Regions from separate parts of the Homo sapiens genome. Here all the other regions are linked to region 1. Evidence: fine-mapped expression QTL. A gene starts in region 1. Each other region holds a variant in brackets. All regions are shown on one strand. Distances are from middle to middle.

Region 1 (8,175 bases):
TCCTGGGGAGGCCGCCCAGCTCGGGCTGCGGGGGCTTCTTGGAGAGCGCTTTGAATTCGGCCGGCCGCGGCCTCTTGGGAAGCACGCTGACTTCGGGCTCTGAGGAGGTCCTGGTGAGGTCCCCAAGCTCAGGCTGCGGAGGCTTCTTGGGAAAGTCACTCAGCGGAGGCTGGGAGGCCTTTTTGGGAAAGGCGCTGGAGTCGCGCTTCGGCTCGCTGGACTGAGGCTTCCAGAGGGGAGTCTGAGCGGCCTCGCTGAACTCAGGCTGCGGCACGGACTTCTTAGGGAGGCCACCGACCTGAGGCTGCGGAGGCTTTTTGGGGTACACGTTGAACTCAGGCTGCGCAGGCTTCTTGGGAAAGGTACTCAACTCAGGCTGCGGGGACCTCGGGGTAGCCTCACCGGCCTCGGGTTGCCAGAGCTTCCTGGGGAATGCGCCGGATTTGGGTTCGGAGGGGGGTCTGGCGGGGTGACTGAGTTCGTCGGGCTGCAGGGGTTTCCGGGCCGGCGCACCAGGCTCCGGCAGCGAGGCCTTCAAAGGGGCCTCACCGACCTCAGGCTGCAGGGGCTTCCTTGGAAACGGAGTGGCCCCCAGCTGTGGGAACTTCTTGGAGAGGTCACTCAACTCCAGTTTGGACGGCTTCTTGGGGAGGTCAGTGACCTCAGGCGGCGGGGGCTTCTTGGGGAGGTCAGTGACCTCAGGCGGCGGGGGCTTCTTGGGGAGGTCAGTGACCTCAGGCGGCGGGGGCTTCTTGGGGAGGTCAGTGACCTCAGGCGGCGGGGGCTTCAAGGACACTGCACCAAACTCAGGCAGCGGGGCCTTCTTGGGGTGCTCGCTTAGCTCAGGCTGGGAGAACTTCTTCAGTTTACCAAACTCAGGCTTCGGAGGTTTTTTGGGCAGGTCGCTGGGCTCCGGCTGAGAGGCCTGGAACTTTGCTTTGATGCTCCGGAAGTCCTGATGGCTCTCCTAGGAGACGCAGAGCCAATGAGGCAGGGGCTCAAACACACAGAAGGGGCATGGAAGGATGGGCCTGGGGACCCTCAGGCACAGCCCACAACCACCACCCCTGCGCCCAGGCCCGGTCAGCCCTCAGCTCTTTCCCAGGAGCCCCCATGGATCCTAGGATCCTGGGACCGACACCCCTCCCTACTTCTCCATTTAGTGCTGATTCCACACCCAACCTCCTCTAGCAGCACTGGAGATCCCGACATCCCTCCTGCAGCCTCCAGTCCCACTGCCCTCCCCCCATGGGTGGTACCCCACCCCCCCAGCATCCTTGACCCCCTCATTCTTTCACCCCTCCCACTGCATGTCTCCAGTCTCGTTCCATTGCCCAGGCTGGAGAGCAGTGGTGCAATCATAGCTCACTGCAGCTTGCAACTCCTGGGCTCCAATGATTCCCCCGACCTCGGCCTCCCCAGTAGCTGGGATTACAGGCTTGAGCCGCCGCGCCCAGGCCCCCAGTCCCTTCTGTGCTAATTTCAAAACACATCCGGAATCCAACCACTTCTCACTGCCTTCACCACTGTCACCCCAGGAGGTAGTGGGAGGCAGTGTCTGCCCTCCCCCAACCAATTGCCTGGATTACTCTAACAAGCCCTTCCCTGGGCCTCTGCCTACCCCCTTCCCTGGTCAGTTCCCCCCATGGCAGCTGGAGGGAGAAGCCTGTTGAACCCTGAGTCTGTTTGTGTCCCTCTGCTCAAAACTCGGCAATGCTTCCTCATGTCCCCACAGTTCAAGCTAAATGCCTCATAAAAGCCTGGGCGAACCAGCCTCCCTACCCAGCCACCTTCTCCTCCCTGCACCCTGAACACTTCCCTCCGACCTCGGGGCCTCTGCCCTGTCCCTGACCCAGGACATGTCTCTGCACCACCTGGGTCTCTCCTTTTCCTCCTCCCAGCCTCTGTTCTCATATTTTCTTATTAGAGAGGCCATCCAAGGCCACCCTATTTGTTTATTTTTATTTTTTGAGATGGAGTCTTGCTCTGTCACCCAGACTGGAGTGCAATGGCGCGATCTCGGCTCACTGCAATCTCCACTTCCCAGGTTCAAATGATTCTCGTGCCTCAGCCGCCCAAGTAGCTGGGATTACAGGCACTCGCCACCACACCTGGCTAATTTTTGTATTTTAACTAGAGACAGGGTTTCACCACGTTGGCCAGGCTGGTCTCAAACTCACGACCTCAGGTGATCCACCCTCCACCCGCCTCAGCCTCCCAAAGTGCTGGGATTACAGGTGTGAGCCACCGTGCCCAACCTAGACCACCCTATTTTTCTTTCTTTCTTTTTTTTTTTTTTTTTTGAGACGGAGTCTCACTCTGTCACCCAGGTTGGAATGCAGTGGTGGAATCTCGCCATACTGCAACCTCCGCCTCCTGGGTTCAAGCGATTCTCAGCCTCCTGAGTAGCTGGGATCACAGGTGTCTGCCACGACGCCTGGCTAATTTTTTTTGTATTTTTAATGGAAACAGGGTTTTACCATGTTGGCCAGGCTGGTCTCGAACTCCTGACCTCAAGTGATCCACCCACCTCGGCCTCCCAAAGTGCATGAGCCATCACGCCTGGCCTAGACCACCCTATTTTAAATGGATCACCCCATCCCACTACTGCCCTGCATTCAGCATGCATGATTTTCTCCATCGTACCCACCCCTACGTATTATACTATTTTACATTGTTTTTAATGTGTCTTGATTTTTTTTTTTTTTTTTTTTTGTCTCTCTACACCACAACTTCCCTCAGTTCCTCAGCCTCTGCAAGGCAGAGACTTGGCTCATTCATTGCTGTCTTCCCAGGGCCTGGAACATGGTAGGTGCTCAGTAAATATTTGCTGAAATAAACAATATTCAGGCAGCACAAAGACAGCCATGTACTCAGCCTGACCATCAGGAAAACACAGAGATGCCTGGAGACGGCCATGCGGTCCCTCTCACACCGTCTCTGACATGCGGGCTGATGGTCAGGAATGCTCACAGTTGACAGTGCCTGAGAGGATTGGTGCAGACACCGTGGGCACAGGCGCTGTCTCCTGCATACCCAGCTGTCCCAGCTGCCCTCCTAGCTGGCCCTGCAACCACTCCTCACAGAGGTAGGCAGATTCACAAGAAGGCCAGGCCTCCTTAGTCCTACAAACGCCCCTTTCACCTGTGGTCAAGGAGATTGGGGGAGGGAAAGGGCAGAAACGTGTGGCCTTTGCTTCCTGCGTGTGCCTCACTTTCCCCATCCAGAGGACCAGAGACCAGGATTGCTCCTTGGAAAGGCAGCAATTCCCACCTGGGGCCTGAAGTGCCCCTGTCAAAGCCCCGAGTGGTTTGAAGGAAGTGCTCCCGGGCGACCACAGGGCTAGATAAGTCAGGGTTAGCAGGTCACAACTTGGGTGACTGGACGGGGGAGGGTCATGACCCACTTTGTCACCCCGCAGGAAAGCACTGCTCTCACCCCAGCAGCCCGTTCCCACATGGCTGCTCATGTTGACCTGGGGAGACGGGAGTTGTCCCCCCGGGGAGTCCCATCTGTCCCCCTCGCAGTCCCAACCTGAGCGTGAACCCCCAGGAGCCCGCGCTGTCCTGGGGTGTGCCTGGTGGCCGCCTACCTCGGGTCCTTTTTGCCGACCCTTCCCGTTTCCCAGATGTCTTTCGCAGCCACCCCCCGCCCCCCCGCCCGCCCCTCCACAGGTGGATCCTATCCTTCTGGGAACATCTGTGTCCCTTGCTTCCCAGCCAGTGAGGCACAGGCCTCTTCCAGCACTCACCATGGCTGCAGGCAGGTGATGGGCCATGGGATGAGTGGGACCCGAGCTGGGGCCGCTGCCTTCAGGAAGTGACTGTGGCTTCTGCTCCACGGTCAGCACACAGGGTGGGGGCTGCTAGAGGTGGGGCGGGGGAGGGCAGAGGAGGAAGGGAAGGAGGTGGGGAGGCTCCAGTCCGTCTCCAGATCCTGCCAGCCACTTCTTTTTTTTTGAGACTGAGTCTTGCTCTGTCGCCCAGGCTGGAGTGCCATGGTGCCATCTCGGCTCACTGCAACCTCTGCCTCCCGGGTTCAGGCAATTCTTTTGCATCAACCTCCTGAGTAGCTGGGATTACAGGCGCGCACCACCGCTCCTGGCTACTTTTCGTATCTTTAGTAGAGAAGGGGTTTCACCATGTTGGGCAGGCTGGTCTCAAACTCCTGACCTCAAGGGATCGGTCCGCCTCGGCCTACCAAAGTGCTGGGATTACAGGTGTGAGCCACTGCCCCGGCCCCTGCTGGGCACTTCTATTTCGCTTGAATTCCTGTCCTGCCTGCTACTGTCCCAAGCTTGGGGCACTGGTTGCCCGCATGTTCCTAACATGGTCACTAGTTTCTTTCTTTTTTTTTTTTTTTTTTTTTTTTTTGAGACGGGGTATCACTTTGTTGCCCAGGCTGGAGTGTAGTGGCGCAATCTCGACTCACTGCAACCTCCGCCTCCCAGGTTCAAGCGATTGTCCTGCCTCAGTCTCCTGAGTAGCTGGAATTACATGCATGTGCCACCACTGCCGGCTAATTTTTTGTATTTTTAGTAGAGACGGGGTTTCACCATGTTGGTCAGGCTGGTCTCAAACTCCCAACCTCAGATGATCTGCCCGCCTCGGCCTCCCAAAGTGCTGGGACTACAGGCGTGAGCAACCACGCCTGGCCAACTAGTTTCTTACTCTCTATAGTCCCCATCATTCCTACTACTTTGGTGTCCCCATCTCTGGACTCCAGGGAGGACTCCATGCCAGGCCCTGGTGACCTCCTGGGCTAGAGAGCCACAGGATGGGGAGATCTCAGCAGATCAGGGGTACGGACAGCTCTGGGGTTTAGGAGGCTCCTGGGGAGGCCCAGAGGCCCAGGACGTGGGGGCCCATGTGACCGGGTGAGGCCTCTGCTGTCTGCCCTGGTTGGCTCATCCGCCTTCCTCATTTCAACACTTCCATGAAATCCAATTCCCGGCTCTGAGCAGGACTCACTTGTTCTGGGGCAGATATCACAGGCCATGGATGTCCCAGGCTGCCGCCCTGGGCAGAAAGCTTAGCTGGTACAGCAGATTTGGGGGTCGGTGGGTGAGTGGTGTCAAAGGCCTTGCACCTGGGCCACGCACGGTGGCTCACGCCTGTAATCCTAACACTTTGGGAGGCTGAGGCAGGAGGATCACTTGAGCCCAGGAGTTCAAGACCAGCTTGGGCAATGTAGCAAGACTCCATCTCTACAAAAAATATAAAATTAGCCAGGTGTGATGGTGCACGCCTGTGGTCCCAGCTGCTTGGGAGGCTGGGGTGGGAGAATCACTTGAACCCTGAAGGCGGAGGTTGCAGAGTCAAGATCACGCCACTGTACTCCATGCTGGGTGACAGAGAGAGACTCCATCTCAAAAAAAAAAAAAAAAAAAGGCTTTGCAGTTCTGGAGGAGTGAGGGGGTCTGAGGACCCGAGGACACACCAGATTCCCAGAGGTTAGAGGTAGTAGAGAGAAGAGGAACCAGGAGACAGAGACAGGGGCCAAGAGGGGGTGAAGGCAGTCACTTGTGGTGCCGAGGACTGGCCAGATAAGGACAAGCCCTGACCACAGAGCTCAGCCCACAGGAGATCAGTAATCTCCGTCACGGTAGACAAAGGGAGAAAACACCTGCTAAGAGAGTAGAGAGCCCTGGTTTTCAGTTTGAGCACATGTTGGAATTGCCTGAACAGTTAAAAAAAAAAAAAAAAGAACCGGCGGTTGGGCAGTGTGGCTCACGCCTGTAATCCCAGCACTTTGGGAGGCTGAGTCGGGTGGATCACCTGAGGTTGATCACCTGAGGTTGGGAGTTCAAGACCAGCCTGGGCAACATGGAGAAACCCCATCTCTACTAAAAATACAAAAATTAGCTCGGCGTGGTGGCGCATGCCTGTAATCTTGGCTACTTGGGAGGCTGAGGCAGGAGAATTGCTTGAACCCAGGAGGCGGAGGTTGCAGTGAGACGAGATGGCTCCACTGCACTCCAGTCTGGGTGACAGAGCAAAACTCCATCTAAAAAAAAACAAAACAAAAAACAGAACCTACAAGAAACTCTGACTTAATCAGTCTGGGGTGTGGCCCGAGCAAGTATTTTTAAAACATTTTAAAATTTTTTTTTTGAGACAAAGTCTTGCTCTGTCTCCCAGGCTGCCTCCCGGCTTCAAGTAGCTGGGATTACAGGTGCCTGCCAACATGCCCGGCTAATTTTCTGGATTTTTAGCAGAGCTGGGGTGTCACCATTGGCCAGGCTGGTCTCAAACTCCTGACCTCAAGCAATCTACCCACGTGGGCCTCCCAAAGTGCTGGGATTACAGGCCTTAGTCACTGCGCCTGGCCTGCCTGTTTTCACGCCTCCTTTAAGAGCACAGACATCAGGATTCTGCCATCTCTGTTGTGCCTTTGCATCCTGTCCTGGGGCACAGTTCCCAGATGTGGGTTGCCCTCCCAAAAAGGAGTCTCGGGAGGACAGTATGGGCTCTCTGTGGGTCTCCAGAACCTTGGCAAGTGAAGGAAAGAATGAAAGAAAGAACAAGTGGCCAGGCGCGGTGGCTGACGCCTGTAATCCCAGAAGTTTGGGAGGCCAGGCGGGCGTATCACCTGAGGTCAGGAGTTCGAGAGCAGCCTGGCCAACATGATGAAACCCTGTCTCTACTAAAAATACTGTTTGTGCACACCTGTAATCCCAGGTACCTGGGAGGCTGAGGCGGGAGAATCGCTTGAACCCGGGAGGCGGAGGTTGCAGTGAGCTGAGATTGCGCCATTGCACTCCAACCTGGGTGACAAGGCGAGACACCGTCTCAAAAAAAAAAAAATTAAATTAAATAATAAAAATAAGTAAATAAATAAATCAAGCAATGCTTGGCCACAGTAAGGAGCTCAATCAAGGTAATTAAAGGATTGGATGACAGCTGATGGATTCCCAGGTGCCTGGGCTGGTCACTACCCGTGCACTCTCGCAGCTAGGAGGGTCCAGCCAGGGCGCGCGCACCAAGGCCCCACGGGGGCGCCGTGGGGGTGAAGCGCAGGTCCCGGAGCTGTAGTCATGGTGCGCCTCCCCGCCAACTACCCTTTGTGTATTTGGCGCCTCCGTAGGGGCTCCCGGCAGGGTTCCGCGCGGCGCGGCTGCAGACAGGGACAGATAGGGTTACCGGAATCCCGGAGAAGGGAGCCCGGACCAGGGGAGTGAGAGTTCGTTAGGGCGCGCCTTGGGGAATCTGCGGGGTCGGAAACGCGAACAACGGTGTGCAGGGGGAGGAGCCCGGGGAGCACGTGGGCGGCGGATCCCAGGGCCGCAGGGCGCCCTCCACCTCCCCGCTCCTGGCCCGCAATGAGGGTAACCGGACCGGCACCTGCAAGTGACAGCTGGGGCTGGACAAATGCCGGGCACGGGCCTCTGGCCGGCCTCAGAGCTGTTCAGCGCGAGCCCGCGGCTTCCAGCCAACCTGCCCGCTATCCCCACTGCTCTCCCGGCTTTCATTCCCCCGAGTCTGAGATTCCTGGGCGCCCCCTGCTGGGCGGAGCCGGGGCCCAAGAGGGCTGGGCTCCTGTGCATGGGGGTTGGGGGCCGGCTTGAGGGTAGGAGGTCGTTTCTGCAGTGGACAGGGTGAACGGTGGAGGACAGGTGGTGAGCCAGCTCCCCAGGCCTCGCGGCAGTCAGTTCACTCCAGAGGGTAGTGTGGTGGCCGTGGGCCCGCTGTACACACAGGAAGGGCTGTCCCATCTCCGTGGGTGATGGGGTAGGGGAGAGGTCCCTGGACGGACGTGTTGGCTCTAGGTTTCTCTGGAAAGATACTGACAGACTGGGAAGAGGCGTGGCCTAGATCTGGGGGTGGCCGAATAAAGAAACTGATGGGGACAAAGACTCCTGGGGGCCCCCGGGACCCTGGAGAGGGGTTAGGGGCCTGGGGGACAGAGAACACAGCGCTGTCCCTGGAGATGGGGGAGAGGCTTGGACTACAGCCAGATCTAGGGACCTGCAGAATGCGGGAACAGGGGCGTGTCCTCTGGACCTGCTGGCAGGGTTTTCTCTTCTCGTGGTAACCGTGCGCAGCTCCCAAGATGGTGCAGAATCAGTGCCGCTGACTGGGAACTGGGGCTGGCTAGAGGCCTCCTAGCCTCACCTTCTCTATATATCTGTAAAATGGGCCCCTTCACCCTGTCCCACCCTCCTCCCCAGGTCGA
Region 2 (8,175 bases), 49 kb after region 1:
TTAGAGGCAGAAGGAAGTATCACTATGGAGCCTGGGTAGGTTGGCACAGAGAGGTGGGAACGCGGTGGGGAGGGCTGGGGTGTCCCCTAGTTGCTAAGGGATCCTCATGGTCCTTCCACCCCACCCCCACCCCAGGATCCCCCATCCCTGACTGCTTGGCCGCCCACCTGCTCGGCCTTCAGGGTAAGTTCGATAAAGATTTGCTGCAGCTTCTCATTGACGAAGTTGATGCAAAACTGCTCGAAGCCATTTTTCTGCAGAAGGAGGAAAAGGGTCCTTCCCTCAATGTCCTGGTGCTGGAAGTTCTTGTGGCCACCCTGGGCTGCCCCAGGGAGGACAGGATGTGGGCTGGAGGCAGGGGGCCGTACCTGGAAGATCTCGAAGCCGTAAATGTCCAGCACACCGATGCTGTACTCTTCCTGGGGTTTCTGCATAGCACGGTTGATGGCCTGCGGTGTGGGTGGGGACAGGAAGTCAGTGGGCATCGGTCAGATCTGAAGCCCCTGCCCACCACTCCTTAGACACACGCCTAGCCAACTTCATGGGTGATGTCCCCTCATGCCAGTTTCCCTCCAGCCCTCTTTAGCTCTGCCCTTCCTGGCTCTGTGTACAGTCTCCCCACCCCATAATCAGTCACTCAGAGGAGAAACCCAAGTGTCAGTGTATCAGGGTCCCTGACTCCAGAGCTGACTCTGCCCCTGAACCTCTCTGCACCTCTATTTTCTTTTTTTTTTTTTCTTTTTTTTTTTTGAGACGGAGTCTCACTCTGTCGCCCAGGCTGGAGTGCAGTGGCATGATCTCGGCTCACTGCAAGCTCCGCCTCCAGGGTTCACACCATTCTCCTGCCTCAGCCTCCCAAGTAGCTGGAACTACAAGGGCCTGCCACCACGCCCGGCTAATTTTTTGTATTTTTAGTAGAGACGGGGTTTCACTGTGGTCTCGATCTCCTGACCTCGTGATCCGCCCGCCTCGGCCTCCCAAAGTGCCGGGATTACAGGTGTGAGCCACTGCGCCCGGCCTTGCACCTCTATTTTCTTATCTTTAAAAGGGGTTGATAATAGCAACTACCTTATGGGGCTTTTTCTTTTCTATTTTTTTTGAGATGGAGTCTCATTCTGTTGCCCAGGCTGGAATGCCAGTGGCGCAATCTCGGCTCACTGAAACCTCTGCCTCCAGGATTCAAGAGATTCTTCTGCCTCAGCCTCCCAAGTAGCTGGGATTACAGGCATGCGCCACCACGCCCGGCTAATTCTTGTATTTTTAGTAGAGACGGGGTTTTGCCATGCTGGCCAGGGCTGATCTTGAACTCCTGACCTTGGGTGATCTGCCCGCTTTGACCTCCCAAAGTGCTGGGATTACAGGCATGAGCCACTGCACCTGGCCATACATTTTATACTTTATTTATTTTTATTTTTTATTTTGAGACAGGGTCTCAGTCTGTTGTCCAGGCTGGAGTGTAGTGGCTTGATCATGGCTCACTACAGCCTCAACCTCCTGGGGTCAGGGATTCTTCCACCTCAGCCTCCTGAGTAGCCGGGATTACAGGCACCAGCCACCATGCCCGGCTAATTTTTGTATTTTTGTAGAGACAGGGTTTTGCCATGTTGCCCAGGCTGACTCCATACATTAAAAAAGTTTTTATTTTATTTATTTATTTATTTTGAGACAGAGTCTCTCTCTGTTGCCCAGGCTGGAATACAATAGCACGATCTCAGCTCACTGCAACCTCCACCTCCCAGGTTCAAGTGATTCTCCTCCCTCAGCCTCCCAAGTAGCTGGGATTAAAGGCATGTGCCACCACTCCCGGGTAATTTTTAGTAGAGAGGGGGTTTCACCATGTTGGCCAGGCTGGTCTCAAACTCCAGACCTCAAGTGATCCATCCACCTCAGCCTCCCAAAGTGCTGGGATTACAGGCATGAGCCACTGCATCTGGCCAAAAGTTTTTTTTAGAGACAGGGTCTTGCTCTGTCACCCAGGCTGGAGTACAATAGCGCAATCATAGCTCACTGCAGCCCCAACCTCCTGGGTTCAAATGATCCCCCAACCTCAGCCCTCTGAGTAGCCAGAACTACACATGCACACCACTACACCCAACTAATTTGAAATTTCTGTAGAGATGGGGGTCTTGCTATGTTGCCCAGGCTGGTCTTGAACTTCTGGCCTCAAAGAATGCTCCCAACTCAGCCACCCAAAGCATTGGGATTGCAGCCGTGAGCCACTGCACTCAGCTTCCATAAATGTTTGTGACCCCAGAGCATCCACTCTGCCTTCCAGCCCCAGCCCCACTCGCCTCCACGAGGAAGTCGAAGAGGCGGGCATAGAGCCCCTTGGCCAGGGCATCACGGGTGTAGGCTGCCTGCTCCACGTTGAGGGTCACATTGATGGACTCGCTGCGCCCGCCCCAGCGGCTGTCCATCTTGCGGCTGGTCAGCTTCTCCTGCAGTCGCCCGCTGTCAATGCCCAGCAGGTAGGCGGGAAAGGCCAGGACTACCAGGGCAAAGGTCAGGGCAAAAATGGGACAGTTGGTTGGGCTCTTGTGCCTCCTGCATGGGCCTCCTATTATCCCCATCTTGCCCAGTGACACCCACATTTTTTTCCTCGTGGGCTTTCAGCTTCCTGGGGGCTGAGCTAGGAGGACGCAGTTCACCCACCCACAGGCCTCCATCCAGCCCTCCCTGATACCCACACTCACGGTCCACACTCTCCACTCGGGCGTAATTCCCGTCTTCACAGAAACTGATGTTCCCCAGGTGCAAGATCCCCGCCACGAGCTGCAGGACCAGCTGCTGGATGCTGGGCGGGATCCCAATAACCTGCATAGCACTCTGTGGTACAACGGGGGCAGAAACTGTGCCGTGAATCCTGGCCTCCAACCTGCCTCCAGGGGCAGGCTTGAGGGACCACAGCACGGACTCAGGGAGTGAGCACCCTTGGGTCCCTGTCCTACCCCTTTCAGTCACTTGCCGCGTGACCTTGGGTAAGTGCCTGCACCTCTCTGGGCTTTGTTTTTTATTATATTTTTTATTTTTGAGACAGAGTCTCCCTCTGTTGCCCAGGCTGGAGTGCAGTGGTATGATCTTGGCTCACTGCAACCTCCTCATCCCAGGTTCAAGCGATTTTCCTGCCTCCGCCTCCCGAGTAGCTGGGATTACAGGCGTGAGCGTCGTGTCCGGACTGGGCTTTGGTTTCCTATTTTTTTTTTTTTAGAGTCTCACTCTTTCACCCAGGCGGGAGTGCAGCGGCGCTATCTTGGCTCACTGCAACCTCCACCTCCCGGGTTTAAGCGATTCTCCTGCCTCAGCCTCCCTAGTAGCTGGGACTACAGGCGCATGGCATCATACCCGGCTAATCTTTGTATTCTTAATAAAGATGGGGTTTCACTATGTTGGCCAGGCTGGTCTTGAACTCCTGACCTCAGGTGATCTACCTGCCTCGGCCTCCCAAAGTGCTGGGATTACAGGTGTGAGCCACCGTGCCTGGCCTTTTTTTTTTTTTTTTTTGAGATGTAGTCTCACTCTGTTGCCCAGGCTGGAGTGCAGTAGTGTGATCTCGGCTCACTGCAACTTCCACCTCCCGTTTTCAAGCAATTTTCCTGCCTCTGCCTCCCCAGTAGCTGGGATTACAGTCACACGCCACCACATCTGGCTAATTTTTGTATTTTAAGTAGAGACGGGGTTTAACCACGTTGGCCAGGCCGGTCTTAAACTCCTGACCTTAAGTGATCTACCTGCCTCGGCCTCCCAAAGTGCTGGGATTACAGGCTTGAGCCACATGCCTGGCCTGGGCTTCGGTTTCCTAATTTGTAACTCAGGAGGGTTTCTGGGGCTGAGGTCTGCCTGGCCGGGGACTGGAGTAGAGGCCGGTGCTCACCAGAGTCTCACCAAAGTCGCTTCTGTCGTCCGTGCCGTCCACCTGGTAGGTGTCCGATTGGTTGAGGTAGTAATAGTAGTCCGGTGTCATGAGGCCCAGGTTCTGCCTTTGCTCCTGGGAGGCCCCTTCCAGCAGCTGGAGGGTGTGCCATGTTCATGCATCTGGTGCTTGCCTGGCTCAGCCCCTGTGATCCCTCATCTGCCCTGCCATGCCCCCCTAGGTGTTTACCTTCCCATTGTCCACCCCGCTGGGCTCCAGGTGGTGCTCCCTCTCCCCCGGCCCCTTCCCTGCACCTGGTAGTAGATGTGGAAGTTCCTCTCATTTTCATTTTGCATGACCACGCGGGACTTCTCCAGCAAGAAGTTGGAGATCTTGCCCCCATCTGGCTCCCCACCTCGGCTGAACTGGATCTCAAAGTACTTGCCCTGAATCCGAGAGAACCATGTCAGCACCCCAGTGTCCTGGGGTGCAGGTGGGGGAAGGGTTGGGGATGGGTCTTATGAGCCTTGCCTCTCTTCCCTTCTTCCTTTTTTTTTTGAGACAGAATCTGACTCTGTTGCTCAGGCTGGGATTCAGTGGCGCAATGTCGGCTCACTGCAACGTCCACCTCCTGGGTTCAAGTGATTCTCCTGCCTTAGCCTCCTGAGTAGCTGGGACTACAGGCACCCGCCACCATGCCCAGCTAATTTTTGTATTTTTGGCAGAGCTAATTTTTGTATTTTTCATCATGTTGGCCAGGCTGGTCTTGAACTCCAGACCTCAAGTGATCCGCCTGTCTCAGCCTCCCAAAGTGCTGGGATTTCAGATGTGAGCCCCCACACCCAGCCCAAGGGTATGGAATTTATTAAACCATGTCCATGTGCAGGTGTAATACTGAAGTCTATGAGATGGATATTAACATCGTCACCATTTTATGGATGAGCAAACAGAGGAAACTCAGGAAGTTGCATAGATTTTTTT[C/T]CCCCCCAGGCTACACAGCTCACAGTGATAGAATCAAACCCTGAATCCATATCTGTTTACCTATCCTGACTTTCACTGGGCCCAGCGCAGCACCCACACAAAGAACGAGTCCCAGAACTATTGTCGAAAGAAGGAATGGATGAGGGAATAAATTGGACCTGAAATGTGAATGGGAACAATGTAGCATGGCTGCAGCCGGGGGAGCATTTAAGAATGTTACACAGGGGTGTCATGGCCTCCACAGTTCTGCCAATGGGGGACTCTCTTTTGAAAGGGACCATGAGCAGGAAGTGAGTCTCCCCTTCAGGAGTAGGTATTTCCTGCTGGGTTTTCAATGGACTCTTGTCTTGGCAATACGGGTGTGTGTATGTGTGGGTGTGTGTGTAGAAAGGTCAGCACGGAGGGAGCAGCTGCTCCAAGCAGGTCTGCAGAGACTTACAAAGCGGCTGGAATTGTTGTTGCGCACAGTCTTGGCGTTGCCGAAGGCCTCGAGCAGCGGGTTGGACTGCAGGATGATATCTTTGACGTGCTGGGGCAGAGGCAGGTGGAGTGGGAAGAAGTCAGACTGAGGCAGGAGTGCAGATGGGTGGGGCTGCACTACCATGCAGGTGAGGGCGACCCAGCTTATCCTTCTGTTTTCCTCGTCTCACCTGGACCTTCTCGCCTCCGCCAGACACCTTGGAGATGTAGCCCATGATATATTTGGCTGCCACTGTCTTCCCAGCTCCACTCTCTCCACTGGGGATGAATGGAGGAATAAATGATCAGTGGTTGGGGAAGAGCCCTTTTTAGTGCCTGACCATTCATTCATTGAGCACCTACTGTGTGCCTGCCAGTATTCCGGGTACTGGGGATACTGTAATGAACAAGACAGATAAAATCTCTGCTCTCAGCCGGGCATGGTGGCTCCTGCCTGTAATCCCAGCACTTTGGGAGCCTGAGGAGGGCGGATCACTTGAGGTCAAAAGTTAGAGACCAGCCTGGCCAACATGGTGAAACCCAGTCTCTACTAAAATACAAAAATTAGCCGGACATGGTGGTGGGCGCCTGTAATCCCGGCCACTCAGGAGGCTGAGGCAGGAGAATTGCTTGAACCTGGGAGGCAGAGGTTGCAGTGAGCTGAGGTTGTGCCACTGCACTCCAGCCTGGGTGACAGACTGAGACTCTGTCACACACACACACACACACACACACACTCTCTCTCTCTCTCTCTCTCTCTCTCTCGCTCTCTTTCTCTCTCTCTGCTCTCATAGAGCTGGCATCGATTGATTGACTGAGATGGGGTCTCACTCTGTTGCCCAGGCTGGAGTGCAGTGGTGTGATCATAGCACCTGTTCCTGCCTGGAACTCCTGGGCTCAAGCAATCCTCCCTCCTCAGCCTCTTGAGTAGCTGGGGACTACAGGCGTGCACCACCGTGTCCGGCTAATTATTATCTATACAGAGACAGGATGTTGCCATATTGCCCAGGCTGGTCTTGAACTCCTAGCCTCAAGAGATCCTCTCGCCTTGGCCTCCCAAAGTGCCAGGATTACAAGCATGAGCCACTACACCTGGCCTGAGGTGACATTTAGAGGGGACAGACAGACAATAGCAGAATGAATCAATAAAATACATCGTGAGTCAGATGGTGACAAGGAAAATAAAACAGAGTGAGGGCAGAGAGGGACAGCAGGGCAATGTTCAGATTGGGAGTTTCAGGCAAACCTCCCTGGGGGTGGTGATGTTTCAGCAGGGGCCCGGGCAGCAGGGTCTGTGGCCCCCCAACTCTGTCCATACCTAATGATGACACACTGGTTCTCACAGTCGATAAGCATGTTCCGGTACATGTTGTCCGTGAGGGCGTAGATGTGCGGGGGATTCTCATACTGGGCCTGGCAGGGGAGGTCAGGTCTCAGCCCAGGGCTGGGGGCCAGGAGTCTGGGGGCTGTGCCTCCCACCCAGCCCCAGCCTCACCGCGCCCTGATAGAGGTCGATCTCACGGTCGGTGAAGTAGGGCATCTGCTTGAAGGGGTTTACAGAGATGAGCACAGAGCCGATGTAGGTCTGAGGGATGGTTAAGGGTCGTGTGGTGTCCTGGTAGGTTTTGTCCTCCCTGTCCCCTCATCCTGCCCCCACCCAGGGCTTCCTAAAACTCCATTGCTTGGAGGTGGAAGAGATGGAGATAATGGATGCACCTCGAGTCTCTTGGAAAAAACAGGGCTGGCCGGGCGCGGTGGCTCATGCCTGTAATCCCAGCACTTTGGAAGGCCGAGGCAGGCGGATCACTTGAGGTCAGGAGTTTGAGACCAGCCTGGCCAACATGGTGAAACCTTGTCTCCACTAATAATACAAAAAATTACCCGGGCATGGTGGTGCATGCCTGTAATCCCGGCTACTTGGGAGGCTGAGGGAGGAGAATCGCTTGAACCTGGGAGGCAGAGGTTGCAGCGAGCTATCGTGCCATTGCACTCCAGCCTGGGCAACAAGAGCCACTCAGTCTCAAAAACAAAACACAAAACACAAAAAGCAAAAACAAAAAAATTAGCCAGGCATGGTGGCGCATGCCTATAATCCCAGCTACTTGGGAGGCTGAGGCAGGAGAATCATTTGAATCCGGGAGGTGGAGGTTGCAGTGAGCTGAGATTGTGCCACTACACTCCAGCCTGGAACCTGGGCGACAGAGCAAGACTCCGTCTCAAAAAAAAAAAAAAAAAAAAAAAAAAAAAAGAACAAACAGGGTTGGATCCGGAATGGGGGAAATGGAACACGCTGGGGCTGAGCTTCCCCAGGACAGAGGGAGCAGTGGCAGCCACAGCTGCCCCCAACCAGAGCCCTGCTGTCACTCTGTCTGTCCTCTGTGTCACCACTTGGTGCTCTCCCGGCCCATTCCTCCCTCTGCTCCTTCACCCTCCTCTCCGTCCATGGCCCAGCCATTCATTCCTTCCCTGCCTGCCCACCCCCAGCCTTGGCCCAGGGTACGAAGATGTAGTCGTCCATGAAGCGCTTCCGGAGGTTGGCGGCAATGGCGTCTTCGGTGATCTGGGGAAGAAGCACCATGTCATCCACGCCGCTCTGCTTCACGTTGTGGCTCTGCCAGTGGAAGCGCTCCTTGCTGCCCTGGGGGGTGAGAGGGGGGTCGGGGTGAGCCCTTGCACGGGGATGCGGCACCTGGCTCACCGACGCTATCAGCTTCTGGGTTCTGTCCCACCTCCCCCGCCCCACCTCCATTCCTCCTTCCCCATCTCCAGGAGAGGCTGGCAGGGTCCAAGCCAGGCCCCCTGCCCCAGACAGAAGTTGCACTGCTCGGATCCAGCCCTCAGCCCTCTATTTTTTTTTAATTTTTAATTTTTATTTATTTATTTAT
Region 3 (8,175 bases), 35 kb before region 1:
CAGATCCTGAGTGGCTGCTGACCACCTTCTAATATCTGTGATTTGTCTGAGGCCTTGTTGTCTCAGGGACTCTCAAACCATGAGCCCGTGGGTTTGTGCCATTAAGTTTTACTCCATCTGACCCTTCTTCTTGGCCCATCTTTTTTCTTTTTTTAAAAAGTGAGTTTGTTCCAGCCTGGGCAACATGGTGAAACCCCCTCTCTACAAAAGGTACAAAAATTAGCCAGGCATGGTGGCGCATGCCTGTAGTCCTAGCTACTTGGGAGGCTGAGGCAGGAGGATCATTTGAGCCCAGGATGTGGAGGTTGCAGTGAGCTGAGATTGCACCATTGCACTCCAGCCCGGGCAACAGTGAGACCCTGTCTAAAAAATAAAAAAATAAAGTGAGTTTGTTATTCCTCAAACCTGCTTTCACATCTCATCTGAATCAAATATATTCCTTGAGGAAGAAGGTTTTTTTGTTGATTAAATCCCTCTTGGCTGGGCGCAGTGGCTCACGCCTGTAATCCCCAGCACTTTGGGAGGCTGAGGTGGGTGGATCAAGGTCATGAGTTCAAGACCAGCTTGACCAACATGGTGAAACCCTGTCTACTAAAAATACAAAAAATTAGCTGGGCGTAGTGGGGGGTGCCTGTAATCCATCTACTCGGGAGGCTGAGGCAGGAGAATCGCTGGAACCCAGGAGGCGGAGGTTGCAGTGAGCCGAGATCGCGCCATTGAACTCCAGCCTGGGCAGTAAGAGCAAAGCTCTGTCTCAAAAAAACATCCCTCTTAACTTCTTTTCACCTCTTCTCTTGGGGAGGAAGATGAGTAGATTCAGAGTGAAGCTTGGTAGGGTCTAAGGTCTCTCATGTGTTATGATGTCTTTTTTAGTGCTGATGGTGGTAATTGACAGGACAGAGAGTTGAAGAAGAGAGTCAGTACAGAGCTTCACAGACCTTCCCAGATGTTGTTTTACTGCGCAGCCCTCACACACACGCCTCCAACACCTGAAGGACTTGAAGGATGGGGGCGCTTGTGTGGTCTAGAACTGTTTCTCAAACTTCTGGAAGCCATTGACGGGGTTTGCAGAAGTTACAAAACCCCATTGATGAATTAGTAAGATTCAGCTATACCAAGCCCATGAAGCTCTAATTTCAGTCTGGCGGTTCTACATTATATCAGCTAATCATGTTTCCCTCCCTACCCTGCTTTTCTTTTTTACTTAGTGCAATTGAGAGCTGTGTTTTTAGTGCTACACTTCATGCCTTTTCTTCCTTTCCTATTTCTTTAGCTGGACTCTTCTAAGCTGGTAGTTGAGTTCATTTGACTTTCTTGTTAATAGATTTGAGAGATGCTTTCCAAACAACCTTTCAGTTTCTAAGTCTTGAGAATATCATTTACTGTGCAAGCATGGTTTGCGTTGTACTGGGTCAGTTAAACGTAACACCTTTTGTGCTTGTTTTAGGATCCTGATGGTGAACATGCCAGGAGAGCAATGCAAAAGGTGATGGCTACGACTGGTGGGATGGGTATGGGACCAGGTGGCCCAGGAATGATTACTATCCCACCCAGTATCCTAAATAATCCCAACATCCCAAATGAGATTATCCATGCATTACAGGCTGGAAGACTTGGAAGCACAGTATTTGTAGCAAATGTAAGTAAACAGAACCATCGTCTAAAGTAGAAAATCAGAACTTTATGAAATGACCTTGTCAATATGTTATAAAAGTAATTCTCACATTTGAGAAGAAAAATGTAAAGAAGGGTTTTGTTCTTGATTTCTTTAAAAATCAGCCTTATAGGCGGGCTTTGTCTGCATTCCTAAGTCACAGGCTTGACCGTGGTCTCGTTGGGGCTGTGATTCCTGAGTTTCGCAGGTGTTTCCGCAAGCAGTAACCGAGTCTGCATTCTCCGTTGGTTTATTTTATGCAGTTTTGGTGCAGAGTAAGACTGTACGAGCAGAAGTGCACTGACACCTTCCTCTTGTTGTGTCTGGGGTGAATGATAATACCTCCACCATCTGCAAGGGGAAATATTTTTAGAATAAAGTAGGTTGGGTGGGGTGGGGAGTGGTAAAGCTTATCAGGGAAACAATTTTTTAAAAATGTTCAGAAAATGAGTATTAATTTGAAGTATGAGGTGACTTAAGTTTCTGAGAAAAGAGACAATATATTTACTATAGGTACAGTTTATTTACAGTGAAGGCCAGGCTTTATAATCCTATTTTAAAATTTCCATTGCAGTTGATTAGTTTTTGTGACATTATTTCCTAATACTTTTTTCCAACCAAAGCATGTATCATTCATGTAGTAAAAATGTTGTGTTTCTTAAGATGTTTACATTGAGGTTTTTACCCCGTTCTCTCTCGATTAGCTGGATTATAAAGTTGGCTGGAAGAAACTGAAGGAAGTATTTAGTATGGCTGGTGTGGTGGTCCGAGCAGACATTCTTGAAGATAAAGATGGAAAAAGTCGTGGAATAGGCACTGTTACTTTTGAACAGTCCATTGAAGCTGTGCAAGCTATATGTATCCTTCTGCAGGAATTCAACTTATGAACAGTTTGACCTAAATTGCTGTGTTAGTAATGTAGGTTTGTGTGAGGAAGAGGTGACTGTGTGTATTCATGTTTTTTATGTGACTAGGGGGAGTGCATTACTGTGGAATTAAGAGGTTCTCTGGGCCGGACCGGTCACGGTGGCTCACGCCTGTAATCCCAGCACTTCGGGAGGCCAAGGCGGGCGGATCACTTGAGGTCAGTTCGAGACCAGCCTGGCCAACATGGTGAAACCCCGGCTCTACTAAAAAATGCAAAAATTAGCTGGGCGCAGTGGTGGGTGCCTGTAATCCCAGCTACTCGGGAGGCTGAGGCACAAGAATCGCTTGAACCCGGGAGGTGGAGGTTGCAGTGAGCCGAGATTGCGCCACTGCACACCACCAGCCTGGGTGATAGAGTGAGACTCAGTCTCAAAAAAAAAAAAAAAAAAAAAAAAGGTTCTCTGGGGGTGGAATTGATTCAATACAGTGTGGATAGAGGGGATGGTTACAACATGGGCATATGCCCATGAGTCTTTCTACTGTTTTCTTTTCAGAAGAGTCTAGGTTTGAAGGAGGAAGTCCAAAGAATGTGCTACTAGAGAGAAAGTGGGGTTGTTGTTTCATGTGTAATACATCCTTATAGGACCTCACTCTTTCCAGTGAGTAGACATCATTTTGGAAGAGGCCACTTCTCCTTGACCCTAGGCTTAGCCTAGAGTTTTTAATCCCTTGGAGAGTACCCCACAGGAGCACATTCATACAACTCAGACAAGACCGTCACTGCATGTCTTACCCAGAAAACATGGTCCTTCAGTTTAGATAGTGGTAGATGCCTGGCCCATTGGTCACATTCAGAGAACCTTGATGCCACTGCTTAAGAGGATGGTTTGGTGAAATTGTAAGGTTACGAATGAAGCTTCACACCTAAGGAATAAGCGGAAGTTGTCTTGTCCTCCCCGCCAGCTTTATTTATTGTTCCTTTTATGTTTATTGTTGAAAGTATAATGAAGAATTGAAATTGCTCATAAATTCATCACTTAGAGGGACTGGTAGCAGTTGGAGTATTTTTCTTTCTTTTTGTATTTCTCTTGTGCACATTTTTAGAATTGCAAGAAATAGCCTTAATTGTAATACCAGCTATGTTCAATGGCCAGCTGCTATTTGATAGACCAATGCACGTCAAGATGGTAAGTCAGTAGGATCTTTCTCTGTGATATACTCAAGTCTAGCAAAAACATGGAATTAATAAGAGTGTACATATAGCCACTATGAAATATTTGTGGATTAGTCTAAGTTAAATAGGGTGCAGTATGTTGAGCAAAATTGTGAGAGAAATAACATTTTGCTGGTCAGGCGTGGTGGTTCACGCCTGTAATCCCAGCACTTTGGGAGTCTGAGGCAGGCGGATCATGAGGTCAGCAGTTCGACACCAGCCTGACCAACGTGGTGGAACTCCTCCGTCTCTACTAAAAATACAAAAATTAGCCGGGCGTGGTGGCACGCGCCTGTAGTCCAGCTACTCGGGAGGCTGAGGCAGGAGAATCACTTGAACGTGGGAGGCAGAGGCTGCAGTGAGCCGAGATCGTGCCACTGCACTCCAGCCTGGGCAACAGAGTGAGACTCTGTCTCAAGAAAAAAAAAGAAGAAAAAAAAACATTTTGCTCATGGCAGCTCTTGACTGCATTAGATATTTTTCCTTTTGCACAGTTGACTGTTCATGGCGCATTCAGGAAGTCACCTGGGTATCCTGGTTGAGCAAGTGATCCGTTTCAAAGAATGGTTATATATGTGGGGTTCCAGTTTTTCAAAGTATTACAGTATAATGTTTGGTTAGCATCAAATCTGTTGTGAACATAATTAAGTCATTGATTCAGACAGCTTTTAAAGGTCTGTTGGAGCACTTCAATCTTAATAAACATTTGCTCTGCCGTAACTGTGCCAAAGATAATAATTACTACAGGCATGACTGGAACATGCTGAGGGCAGTCTAGTTGGGACTCAAATTCAGGAAAAAGATAAACTATAAAGCAATTTTTTCATTACTCTAAATAGAGTAGGTAAGTTTTTTGAATAGATGATAGATTCACGTGACTCAAAAGTCAAAAGGCATGAAAAGGTAGTGTGAAGATAGTGTGAGTCCTACTTGGACTTCTTGCCCAGGTCCCCATCATCCCCCACAATAATATCCATGTGTCTTTTCCCTTGACATAAAATAGGAAGCA[T/C]GCTCCGCATGCCTTTCTACCCTTGCGTATTACTCCATGGCGTGGATAATGTGTTTAGCTGGTCCTCTCTTGATGGGGGGCCATTTCAGTCTTTTGCTGTTGCAAACACTGCTGCACTGGATACTGAGATTTGTTTGTTTTCTTTCTCTTTCAGGATGAGAGGGCCTTACCAAAAGGAGATTTCTTCCCTCCTGAGCGTCCACAACAACTTCCCCGTAAGTGTTTCAGTGATTAGGGCTGAGAGTTTGAATTGGAGTTACACTAATAAACAGAAAATTACCATATGGTTTCACTTGAACCTGTGCCAGGTTAGCCCTCAGTTCTCTTGGCCAGTTCTTTTCTATAGATTTTTCAGGGTGAGAAATGAGCAGAGATTCACAACTTGAGGATATTGTTAGGATTACCTCATGGTAATCCTAGGATTGTAATACCAGGATGTAGAGGATGTGGTTAGGCATTTTGAAAGTGTCCTGGGGAAGGAAGAATCAGAACCTGTGAAGGGAATGAAAACCAGGCTGCACTCTAATTCAGAAGATACTGGTTAGTCCCATGTGGGCTAGCAGTGCACACTAGACATCTGCACAGAAATTCGCACGCAGATGTTTGCAGCAGGATGAAAGACACATGCTGCAGTGTGGATGAACCTCGATTTCATCTACAGGAAATGCTCCGCATAGATAAATGCATAAAGGCAGAAAGTAGATTAGTGGTTGCCTGAGGCCGGGAAGGAGTAAGTAGGGACGGGACTGCTAATAAGGTTGGATTTCTTTTTTGGGTGATGAAAATGTTCTGGAATTAAATGGTAGTGATAGTTGCATATCTCTGAATATACTAAAAACCACCGAATACTTTGAGTTTTATGGTATGTGAAGTGTCTTGAACAAATAATTTGTATGCAGAGGGGAAAGGGATCAGCTATTTGTGACACCCAGGTGAAAATCTGTCTCGTGACAGGGAAGGCTAGTTGATGGGCTACCACATAGGTAGAAGTGGCAAATATTAGTGCAGAGTCATAGATAAGCCAGAGGCTGGAAGCAAGAACCTCAGTGCATACAGCGGTGGGACGACTCAGGGAATCACTGGCGCAGGTAAAGCTCTCCTGGAGAAGAAAGATGGATGAGGGTGAGAGGCCTGTGTGTGCTGTGCTGGGGTGACCTCCACCAGGCGGGTTGAGGGGGCCTGGTCTGGAGCAGCAGCTCAAGCTCAGGGCCCTACTCACTGAGTTGGATGGGAGCCCAGGCCAGAGCACCTTTGCAGCGTAGCATTATGGCAGCATGACAGATGTATCTTGAAGGGAAATCTGTGGCTTCATGAGAAGGCTCATCTGTTGAAAGGCAACATTAGTTAGAGAAGGATTGCATTTCCTGGACATAACATACTCATTTCCCAAATAAATTGTCAGTGTGCTCACCTGAGCAGTGGTCACCCTGGACCATGGCGATGGCTCTTGTTGACTCTTGTGCTGGAGCAGGAGGAGGAGCACACTGCTCCAGGGAGCCTGTTATCCATGGCTCTTGGTCTCCCGGCCATTTCGGAGGCTTGACTTCAAAGCCTTCAGTGCTTTGGGAGAGTAAGTCACCGTGGCGATCTCTTGCTGCTGTTGCTATGCAATTAAAGATGGAATGTTCATCAGATGAAACGCCTGGGAAGTGGTGGCAGGTTTTATTTACTTTTTAAATGAACTTTGTTTGCTTTCTTTCCTTCCTTTCTTCCTTTTTCTTTCTTTTTGATGGAGTCTCGCTCTGTCGCCCAGGCTGGAGTGCAGTGGTGCGGTCTTGGCTTGCTGCAACCTCCATTTCCTGGGTTCTAGTGATTCTCCTGTCAGCCTTCCAAGTAGCAGCGATTACAGGCATGTGCCACCATGCCAGGCTAATTTTTTTTTTTTTTTAGTAGAGATGGGGTTTTGCCATGTTGGCCAGGATGGTCTCGAACTCCTGACCTCACGTGATCCACCCGCCTTGGCCTCCCAAAGTGCTGGGATTTCAGGCGTGAGCCACTGCGCCTGCCCTTGTTACGATTTTTAAAAGCTTACCTGGTTGTAGTTTAAGCCTCAGATGGTGGTTACCCCAGATATTGCAAGTGTCAGCTCTTTTGGCTGTTTCCAGAGACCAGCCTGTATTTCTGTGTCCCTGTCTGTGTTGGTAGGGCATGGAGTTGAGTGTGGGCTGGGTATCCAGTTGTGGGTTGGGAAGCTTTGGGGGAAGGAAGATAGGTTCTTTGAATACATACATTAGCTTCATTGTTACTAAAACCACCCAGATTCAGAGAGTAGTGGACACCCAGGATGTTGATTGGCTGGTTTGTAACGTGTTTTTTCATGAGAAACATCCTTTGGGCTACTAGGGATTGGGCACATTTGTGCTGCTTGCCACCTGATGTCTTGAGTCACCTTTTTTGATCAGACAGTTCTCAGTCCATGGGTTAGTGAAACAAATAGGCTCTCAAGAATCTTAGTGTGGGGGTTGTTAACTTTCCCGTGTTGGTTTTCAGCCGCCTTTGTTGTATACACACATATCCCAAACGCCGGAACAAGGCTCTGTTTCCAAGTGTGCCGATGTTGAATTTTGCATTGGGCCCTGAGGTCACTGGTGGGTGGGGGTGGGTAGGCTGAAGTGGATAGCTGCAACTCACTAAACACTCTTTTCCTTTGAGGGTCAAGGTTTGCTAAATAGGGGAAAACTAAGCTTCTTTCTCTTTTCTTTCCAGATGGCCTTGGTGGTATTGGCATGGGGTTAGGACCAGGAGGGCAACCCATTGATGCCAATCACCTGAATAAAGGCATCGGAATGGGAAACATAGGTCCCGCAGGTGAGAATGACAGTGCACCTTGCTTGGTGGTTTGGGGAAGTGAAAATTATTAATTATTGGGACAACTGGACTTTGAGTAGTTTAAATGGAATAAATATTTAACTGGGACAAAATTCCCTCCTTATTCATCTCTGCCTCATTTTGAATAAAGGCAGTATTTTGTATTTTTATCAAGTTGAGTCATTTTTTAAAAAGTCATTATGCTTTTTCATTGTAACCTGACAACAACCTTCTAAGCTGAAATAGTTGTGCCATTTGATAAGAGGAGGCAAGCCAGAGAGTTGATCTTGCTCAAGGTCACACTGTCAGTTACTGACAGGCTGCAGGTCTCCTGACCACGGGACCATAGCACTGCCGCAGTGCCCTGAAAAGTGTCTTACCAAGACCCCTTTGGGCCCTCCTGGTGTTTGCACAGCTGCTGCTAGAGAGCTAGGGGCATTGATAGATGCAAAAAAGGTGGAGAGGCCAGGCACGGTGGCTCACGCCTGTAATCCCAGCACTTTGGGAGGCCGAGGTGGGCGGATCACAAGGTCAGGAGTTTGAGACCATCCTGGCCAACATGGTGAAACCCCATCTCTACTAAAAATAAAACAATTAGCCGGGCGTGGTGGCGCACGCCTGTAA

The links. PIP is the estimated chance that this variant, and not a neighbour inherited with it, causes the effect. A credible set is the group of variants that fine-mapping cannot tell apart.
Region 2: its variant is the best candidate, but not a certain one, in a credible set for the expression of PRAM1 in whole blood (TOPMed, PIP 0.78).
Region 3: its variant is the best candidate, but not a certain one, in a credible set for the expression of PRAM1 in whole blood (INTERVAL, PIP 0.81).

Annotation. Positions count from the first base shown.
Region 1 is chr19:8,498,814-8,506,988 of GRCh38, forward strand. It overlaps PRAM1 (PML-RARA regulated adaptor molecule 1), which reads right to left and starts at 3,827. Exons shown (of 10, transcript NM_032152.5): 1 at 3,752-3,827; 2 at 1-967. The coding sequence starts at 3,778. RefSeq lists enhancers at 1-382, 6,992-7,492, 7,532-8,118 and silencers at 6,909-6,958, 6,979-7,078, 7,189-7,448.
Region 2 is chr19:8,547,869-8,556,043 of GRCh38, forward strand. It overlaps MYO1F (myosin IF), which reads right to left. Exons shown (of 28, transcript NM_012335.4): 2 at 7,791-7,928; 3 at 6,786-6,875; 4 at 6,609-6,703; 5 at 5,482-5,569; 6 at 5,271-5,360; 7 at 4,165-4,296; 8 at 3,872-4,006; 9 at 2,694-2,826; 10 at 2,292-2,488; 11 at 369-449; 12 at 168-254. Among named protein-coding and RNA genes, the nearest start is that of MYO1F, 25 kb to the right of the region's middle. RefSeq lists a silencer at 4,983-5,183. The variant C/T (reference allele first, on the strand shown) is at 4,832.
Region 3 is chr19:8,463,877-8,472,051 of GRCh38, forward strand. It overlaps HNRNPM (heterogeneous nuclear ribonucleoprotein M), which reads left to right. Exons shown (of 16, transcript NM_005968.5): 6 at 1,448-1,639; 7 at 2,359-2,512; 8 at 3,659-3,708; 9 at 4,898-4,958; 10 at 7,450-7,551. Among named protein-coding and RNA genes, the nearest start is that of HNRNPM, 23 kb to the left of the region's middle. The variant T/C (reference allele first, on the strand shown) is at 4,744.